Linked DNA regions of Homo sapiens: region 1 is linked to region 2. Evidence: fine-mapped expression QTL. A gene starts in region 2. The other region holds a variant in brackets. All regions are shown on one strand. Distances are from middle to middle.

The links. PIP is the estimated chance that this variant, and not a neighbour inherited with it, causes the effect. A credible set is the group of variants that fine-mapping cannot tell apart.
Region 1: its variant is the best candidate, but not a certain one, in a credible set for the expression of COBL in lung (TOPMed, PIP 0.51).

The regions. Positions count from the first base shown.
Region 1 is chr7:51,347,934-51,352,322 of GRCh38, forward strand. No RefSeq gene overlaps it. Among named protein-coding and RNA genes, the nearest start is that of COBL, 33 kb to the left of the region's middle. The variant C/A (reference allele first, on the strand shown) is at 2,662.
Region 2 is chr7:51,314,152-51,318,540 of GRCh38, forward strand. COBL (cordon-bleu WH2 repeat protein) reads right to left here and starts at 2,658. Exons shown (of 13, transcript NM_015198.5): 1 at 2,442-2,658. The coding sequence starts at 2,482. LOC124901633 (a long non-coding RNA gene) reads left to right here and starts at 2,833. Exons shown (of 2, transcript XR_007060324.1): 1 at 2,833-3,073; 2 at 3,896-4,181. RefSeq lists enhancers at 2,916-3,509, 3,510-4,102.

The DNA of each region.
Region 1 (4,389 bases), 34 kb after region 2:
ATATTACAGGGACATTTTTCAAGTGATCAAATTGAGGAAACAGGCATGGTTCATTCATTCATCCATCCTTCAGTTGTTTGGAAGTTTATTCATTCAGTCATCCATGTAGTATGCCTACTAAATGTCGGAAAATGTGATTATGGTTCAGCCAATAATACAGACTCCCCAAATTAATGATTTTCTTTCAAAATATTAATCTTAAAATGATTTTTTTTTTGAGGTGGAGTCTCACTCTGTCGCCAAGGCTGGAGTACACTGGCACGATGTCAGCTCACTGCAACTTCCACCTCCTGGCTTCAAGCAATTCTTCTGCCTCAGCCTCCCAAGTAGCTGGGATTATAGGCGCCTGCCACCATGCCCGGCTAATTTTTGTATTTTTAGTAGATACGGGTTTCACCATGTTGGTCAGGCTGGTCTCGAACTCTTGACCTCAAATGATCCACCCACCTCGGCCTCCCAAAGTGCTGGGATTACAGGCATGAACCACTGTGCCCAGCCTTAAAATAATTTTATAATTGGGTGTAACTTCCAGGGTGAAGCTATTACTCAGAGAACTAGCCCCTTAGTGCAGGCCGGGGGTGTGTGCTAAAGGCCCCCATTGGAGCCGCAATTCCCATCTATAAAATAGGAGAACAAAAATGTTGGCCTCATGGACCCATCCTAAGGATTGCATGAATTGTTCATATTGAAGGTTATGTTGGTATATGAAATAATCAGCAATTAAGGCTGGGCGTGGTGGCTGATGCCTATAATCACAGCACTTTGGGAGGCGGAGGCAGGTGGATCACTTGAGGCCAAGCGTTCAAGACCAGCGTGGCCAACATGGTGAAACCCTGTCTCTACTAAAAATACAAAAATTAGCCGGGCGTAGTGGTGGACACCTGTAATCCCAGCTACTTGGGAGGCCGAGGCATGAGAATCGCTTGAACCTAGGAGGCAGAGGTTGCAGTGAGCTGTCATGCCACTGCACTCCAGCCTGGGTGGCAGCACAAGACTCTGTCAGAAAAAAAAAGCCACAAAAAATTTTTAAAACCTTTGTTTTATGCTAAATATATCTGAGACAGATAGTTTGGCTTATTTCTTACAGCCTATGTTAAAGACTCTGAATGTCCAAGATAATTTGAAAATAAGATTATAATAAAAACTTGGTTATAATATTTGTTTTCTTTATACACCTTTAGATGAATTATCTTTCACGTGAATAAATATTCTCTGAGATATTAATAATTGAAAAATTAGATTTTTTACTTTGAAAGCAAAAGATTTAAAAAAATCATGCAAGTGATGGTTGCTGGCCTCCACCTCCTTTCCACAGCTCTGTCCTCAGCTCCTCATAGTATAGGGGAAAGTTTTTTTGTTGTTTGTTTTGTTTTGTTTTTGAGATGGAGTCTCGCTCTGTTGCCTAGGCTAGAGTGCGGAGGTGCGATCTCGGCTCACTGCAAGCTCCACCTCCTGGGTTCACGCCATTCTGCATCAGCCTCCCAAGTAGCTGGGACTACAGGCACCTGCCACCATGCCCAGCTATTTTTTTTTTTTTTTTGTATTTTTAGTAGAGACGGGGTTTCACCGTGTTAGCCAGGATGGTCTCGATTTCCTGACCTTGTGATCCGCCTGCCTCGGCCTCCCAAAGTGCTGGGATTACAGGCGTGAGCCACTGTGCTGGGCCCAGGGGAAGGTTTTATGATCTCAGACCTCGCTCATTCCCAGACCAATCCTGGTTTGGACAACTATTGCCTGTTATGTAACAAGAAATTATATGCTAGGATTGTTACCAGTGGGGTACTTTCCCAATTCTTATCAAATGTAGAGAGTTAAGCAAATCTGGTATTCACATCACTGGTGGTCATATCACTATAAAAGATACTCCATTATGCATTTTCAAATTCCATTTTATTTTTCACTTGTATTTGTAAATGGGCACGTGTTATAAATTCTTTCTCTTTTCCTTTCGGTGGAAGAAAATTTGAGAAGATAACAGGGCATAGGATGTCTGACTTCTCTCATACAAGATGTAGTAATTAAACTCCATTCCTCTTCCTCAGATGCAATTTAGGCACATTTCCAAAGAAAAGAGAAATAGATTTGATTGGATGGAGTAGTTATTAATGAACCAATCAGTTTACATTCATGAAATGTGAAGAAGAGGAAATATTTCCTATTATGCTTCTTGATTCAGCTGTAACTGCTGGGCAACACTTCCTGCTTGGCTTTTCTTTGACCCTAAGTATGTGCATTGAAACACCCAGTGGTCTCCAAGTTGGAGATTCTTAAGTTTAGCCTTACAGCATAATGAGCACATAAGCACTCCCAGTGTCTCTGGATCTGATGTTCCCATGACACACAATACTGTTTGTCCAGTAGCAGGGCTGCTCATATTTCAAGTATGAGCTGTGATAGCACCTTCCAAATAAGGAAAAGGATAGGCAGGCTGTGCGTTGTGAAGGCAGGTGTTGAGTTTCAATCCATAAGGAAGAACTTTTGGGATCCCTGGTGTCAAGTATGCCTTGGCATCCTTCCCTTCCGGAAACTCCAGATACACAGGGCCCATGCAGCCGTTGCATGTTCCATTAGCGAATGTTTTCCTAGCATGGAGAGCCCCGCTTCTGAGCGACATGTGTGGAATGTATACTGAACTCTTGTTTACATTTTTTGTGTTTAAAT[C/A]TTGCTTGCTGTACGTATGGACCATATTGAATTAAAAGAGTATTACATGAACAAATTGAGCTGCAATGGCCTGTAAATTGTGAAAAGGCAAATAGAACTGAAGGGTGTGGACCTTGTTTACTGGCAGAAGCAATGGAGTTTGAGGTCAGAATGGTTTGACACACAGCTTGTAATTTTCAGGAATGGAAACTAAGGCACTTGCTTAAAACTTCTGATGTGATTTTTCTTAACTATAAAGTAGGGATAAACAATAATGAATACCTTATATAATTGTTATGAAGCAGCAAAGTTTTATAGACTATAAGTTGCCAAACTGATCTTAGAAACCATTGTGTGGGGCAAGGCACAGTGGCTCATGTCTGGAATCCCAGCACTTTGGGAGGCCGAGGCAGGCAGATCACAAGGTTAGGAGTTCGAGACCAGCCTGACCAACATGATGAAGCCCCATCTCTACTAAAAATACAAAAATTAGTCTGGCATGGTGGCGCATGCCTGTACTCTCAGCTACTCGGGAGGCTGAGGCAGGAGAATTTCTTGAACCCGCGAGGCGGAGGTTGCAGTGAGCCTAGATCGCACCAATGAACTTCAGCCTGGGTGACACAGCGAGACTCTGTCTCCAAAAAAAAAAAAACAAAGAATCCATTGTATGACAAGACGTGTATTTCCTCACATGTGACTTAACTGACTCCTAAGACAGTTTGAACAGAAAACGCATAAGTAATTGTTCCAAGAAGAGGAGTAGCCGCAACTCTAGTGGTCTCTGTGTAAATCCTAGCTGTACTCTGTGTGAATGCTCGAGTTCTAGGCCTTTTCTCCTTGAAATCATTGATCTCAGGTTGGGAGTAACCTCAAGAATCCATCTTGTCTATGTCCTGCCCTATATGCTGAAATGTTATGGGTTCCATAGCTTTGGTCCAAAAAGGTGAATTGACTTACTCAAAGTCACAAAGCTAATTAGTGTCAGATTAAACCAGAAATTGTGGGCAGTATAAGATGTTGCATTGTGAAGTGCTCCTAAGAACTTGCAAGTGATATCCTGATAGTGTGGCAAGTAAAATCAGCACATAATGTATGAACCTGTGTGTCTACAGAAATCGCCCTGATGGATGGACACGTCTGAATGTACAAAAATCTTGGGCCTATTAACTTCTGTGCAGAGAGGGTTAATAGAAGCAACTAGAGTGCTTTCATAGAGTCTACAAAGCGATGCCACGGGATCAGACTTGGTAAGATCTCTCCAGCTCTGTGCAGAGGAGACAGCATTCCAATCAGCAAGCTCAGCCTCCCCAGGGGAAATGGTGGTTTCAGGCCGCTTCAACTCCATGGGTTTTGCCTTCAGTCTGATCAGCTGCCTCTGATCCCATTTTCTTTTTCTGGTTATAATTTGTTTTCCATATAAATTTTCCAACAGAAGGAAAGACACATCTTCTTGGATATGATTTATATCTCTCTGAATATTGATATATCTCAACATAATTTAAGAAGTTGATATCTGGTTTTTACACTGGCCTCTTGTGAATTTGATTAATGGGAATTAGTTTCCTTAAACAAATAACTGTTGGGCTCACACACACACATGACAACTTCCACTTGAAGGCTGGTGAAAAGATCCTGAATTGAGAGGACTCTAAAATGATAAAGGGGCCACCCACAACTAACCATCCACCTCCTCGCTGGCATCATTCTGTAACATCATCAGTGCTACGTCATCTGATTCCAGTGCAGTCC
Region 2 (4,389 bases):
AGTAATCTTCTAGAAGAGCGTTTGTAGGCCACAGGGTGAAATCTCGTTAATTCACTGCACCCAGTCTAGCTTGTTTCTATACAACACAAGGAGGAGTGGTAGTTTCAGCAACAGCAACAGCTTCACCACATCAGTTTGTTATCATGTGGGAAGACAGAGGCTTACTGAAAGTTTGATTTTATAATAAACGGTTGCAGAATCAGATGGAAAACAAATTTCCCTCAAGCACACTGCAAACACTGCCTTAATCTCAGGGAACAGAGGAGTAATCTCAGTGAAGAGCCAACAGAATCTGCCTGCCACCAATAATGTACTAAAGCCACAAATTTCACAGCAATATCTAACCTTTATAATTAGCAAGCATACACCTAAATTATATAAAATATTCGAAGACCTAACACCATTTATCTCCTCAGATTTGAACACAAAATTGCTTATTAAACACGTAATTCTTGTCTGAAAAAATATAAGGATATTAACATTTTCTTGATGCTTCTTCACTGAAAGTATTAACAAATGACAAAGTGAGAACAATAGAAGTTAAAAATAATATGTCTACATTTCTTGGACAAAGATGTTCGGACAAGTAAATTAGACACTGGATATGAGTGAGGGAAAGAACTGAATGCATCAGGAATAATTTCATGTTTTCCATAGCAAAAATCCTTAGTTTTACTTTGCAATTCAAATATGAAAGCCAATCAGAGCTCTGGGAAGCCCTGAGAAGGCCAGCCCTCGACTACCTCTTGCCACACAGTACCAGGCTGAAAAGAGTGCCACGCTCTTAGGGTAAGTCCTTTCACTTCTATCATTAGACTCCCTTCAAGGATCTTACAGATACTCTTTGGATACAGTTTTGCCGGCCTTTTAAATGTTCTCTCTGTCTTCATATTTATTTATAAGGTGATAGTGACAAAATAATTCAGTGTCCTTAAATAGGCTCATTTAATAGGCTATGAAAGCCACAGATTTAAAGATACCTCTGTTTCACATTTCCCTGTTATTTTGGGATGCCTATTACCATGAAAAAGGATTTCCCACATTTACTTTCTTTCTGGGGAATTTGTTTGTTCAAAGAGAATTATATAACCACCAGTAAGTGCACTGCAAAAAAAAAAAAAGAGAGAGAGAAAGAAAACTTCTTTTTAACATTCCTCAGCTTCAGGATTATTTGATTTGCTAACCTGGCTCACCTTTTCCTGGCATTAAAGGAAAACTTTAAAATTTTAAAAAGAGCCCGACTGAAAGTCTTTTACACACTTGGGCAACACGCCCGCCTATGGGCACATGGGCAGGGTGAGTCAGTGGGACACAACTGTAACAGAAAAAAAGATTTGTTGTCCCCAAAGCTGCCTCCTTCAAGTCCAGTTGCCATAGCAGAAAGTGGGCCCATTCAGTAAGCAGGTGCAGGGCTCACCCCAACCCTCATTCCATTTGCAAGACTCATACACATTTGCTCCAGGCGAGCGAGCGAGTTCGAAGGTCCCCGGCGCGCCGCGCTGAAAACTACAAAGTCCACCGGGACTGCGCGCTACCCCGCGGCCCAGCCTGCACCGCTGGCCGGGATGAGCACGGCGCACCTGGCTCGGGGTCTGAATAATGAGCAGGGCTGCTCGTCCTGTTTGAGGGAAATTACTCTTTCTGAGAGTCAAATCCTGAATGTGACGTGTAATCCCTGCACGCAAGGTGTGGGGATAGCAAACAGAAACCGGGAGAGGTTTGGGCAAAAGCGGAATCGCGAAGACAGGGATGGGCCGCCAGACTCGCGGGTCCGCTACGGATGTCTGCGCCTCAGGCCTGGCCCCACTAGGACGCCCCTTCCACTGCCAGGGGAGACCCTGGAATAAAGGCAGGGAGGGAGAGCTGCTGCCATGAAACCCTCCGGGCAATCCGAACACCTTCCGAGAACGCGGGGCCCGGGCGGCTGCGAAGCCGGGGAGCCCTCCCCTCCACGCTGCCGGGAGAGCCGATCCTGGGGCTGCCGCCGAGGCCGGGAGAGGGAAGACTTGATGGGAACCGGCCAGGGGCAAGCCCGCAGGGAAGAGGCCGGAGTCAAAGGCCGGGCGTCCCCTCGCTCCCCGCTCCACCCCTACGGCAAACACTTGGGGGGCCTGAGGAAAGCTCGGAGCTGAGTGGGGGCTGTGCTGGCGGGGACCCCCATAAGGACGCCTGCATACAAACCACCCCGCGCGAAAAGTGCGCTCCGGCCCCGGCCCGACACGGTTACCTGGGCAACGACCCGGGTGCCCAAAGTACACAGCACGCACCACCACCCAACACCAGCACCCAACACCAGCACCGCACCACCTGCTCCACCACTACCACCAGCACCCGCTGGGGCGGCAGAGAGGGCGCCCTGCCCGGGAGCGCGCGGTGCGGACGCGGGCGTCCGAGCCCAGGGAAGCCCCCTCTCCACCCCGCCCGACCGCGGGGCCGCTTACCCGGTCGGGGGCTTGGCCGCCGAGGCGCGCGGCGCGTCCATGGTGCCGGGGGCCGGGACGCGGGCGGTGCTCCGGGCCCGCCGAGTCAGGCGCTGGCTACCGCCGCCACCGCTGCCGCCCTCATTCACTTTTTCCGCGCTGACCCATCGTCCTCCCACGCGGGCCGGCGGAGGACAGCGGCGGAGCGCGGCGGACGGAAGGGGCTGGAATCGTCTCTAGCGGGCGGGGGCGCCGGGAGCGCAGGGAGGGGCTGGCGGCGGCGCGGGGCGGGGGCGCCGGGAGCAAGGTGCGCCGCGCCCCCGCCCCGGCTGCTCTGCCGCGCCCACCGGAGCGCCGCCCCCGCCCCGCCCCGCCCCGCCTGCTCAGAGTCCCGACCCGGCCCGCGGCGAGCGTCCGGGGAAGGAATCCTCCGGCACCTGGGCCCTGCACCGACACCCGCGGGTGCGGCAGAGGGCTTCTCCCCGTGCTCCTCCACCCCTGGGGGGAGCGCGACCCTCTCTGGGCGGAGTGGGGGATCCCGGGGCCGGCGCCTCCTGGCGGAGTTGGGGGAGGGGAACCACCTGGAGCCTGGAGGCCGTGCGAGGGCGAGGTGGGCGGACCAGCCCGGGAGGACTGACGTTGGAGGGTGAGAAGTGAGTGTCCGGCACCGCTCTCTGACCTTTATCCGTGCAGCAAATGTCTAGTGCGTAGGGTCGCAAAGTGGGAGTCCCGACCGGGAGCGTCAGGAACACCTGGGAACTTGTTAGAAATGCAGATTTCTGGGGCCCACCAGGTCCCACGGAATCAGAAACAGTGCGGGCTGGAGCGCGGCCTCGCTTTGCTAACAACTCACTCGCTCTAGGTGAATGCTCGCTTAAGTTTGCCAACCTGATTCACTGGGCGCTACTGTGGCACAACCCTGCCACTCCAGTGCGGGCTGGCGGGCAGATATGCAGGTCCTGCCGGCCACGCCGGGGCCCAGAGCAAGTCAGCCAGAGGTCCCTTATCTGCCCAACTTCACCTCCACTCTCTAAGATCTTGGTTGGTATGATGGGCTGACCTATAAAAGTGGCAGTTTCATATGGTTTCAATGACTCGAATAAAAGACCAACAAGAGGCCAGATCGGGCGAGCCTGATAGCGTTGGGGGTGACGCTCCCCTTGCGATCTTGTCATTGGATGAGGTATCCAGAGGCCTGCGCAGCCTTCCTCCCTCTGATCCCCTGCTTTCTCATTAACTGAAGGGGGGGCAGACCAGTCTATATGCAAAATGTGAGTCCTTACTCGTGGCTGGCAGATCTTGGGTGCTCCCTGCTCCCACCTAGAAGGTTTCCTAAGTCCCCAGGTGGCCCTGGGGCTCACTTCCCTGCAGCCCAGCCTCCCATGAGTGGAGCGCTTTCCCGGCTCAGGGCCTCTGGCTGGGATGCTGCTCCACAGTGCTCTTCCTCCTCCTTTTCATCCCGTGGTCTCCCCAAGGAGCCTTTCCTGGCCTCTCTGTCTAAAAGCACCCTGCGGAGCACAGTGGCTTACACCTGTAACCTCAGCACTCAGGGAAGCCAAGGCCGGAGGAGCAGTTGAGCTCAGGAGTCGGAGACCAGCCTGTGCAACCTGGGAGAACTTTCTACAAAATAAAAAAATTAGCGGAGCATGGTGGCACACACCTGTAATCCCAGCTACGGGGCGGGGCGGCGAGTGGGGAGCAGGCTGGACAATGGAGTGAGATCCTGTCTTAAAACACAAAATAAAAGCAGCTCTCACTCAAGCTCCTGACTGCTGCCTTGTCCTAATTTTCTTCTGAGCATTTGTCACTGTATGTGTGTGTGTATGTGTGTATGTGTATATATATATGTGTGTGTGTATATGTGTATGTGTGTATATATGTGTGTGTTTATATTTAAATGTAAGTTTATAAAGAAATGTTTACATGTAATGTGTTATATTTATAGACATGTTTATATGAATGCATAAAA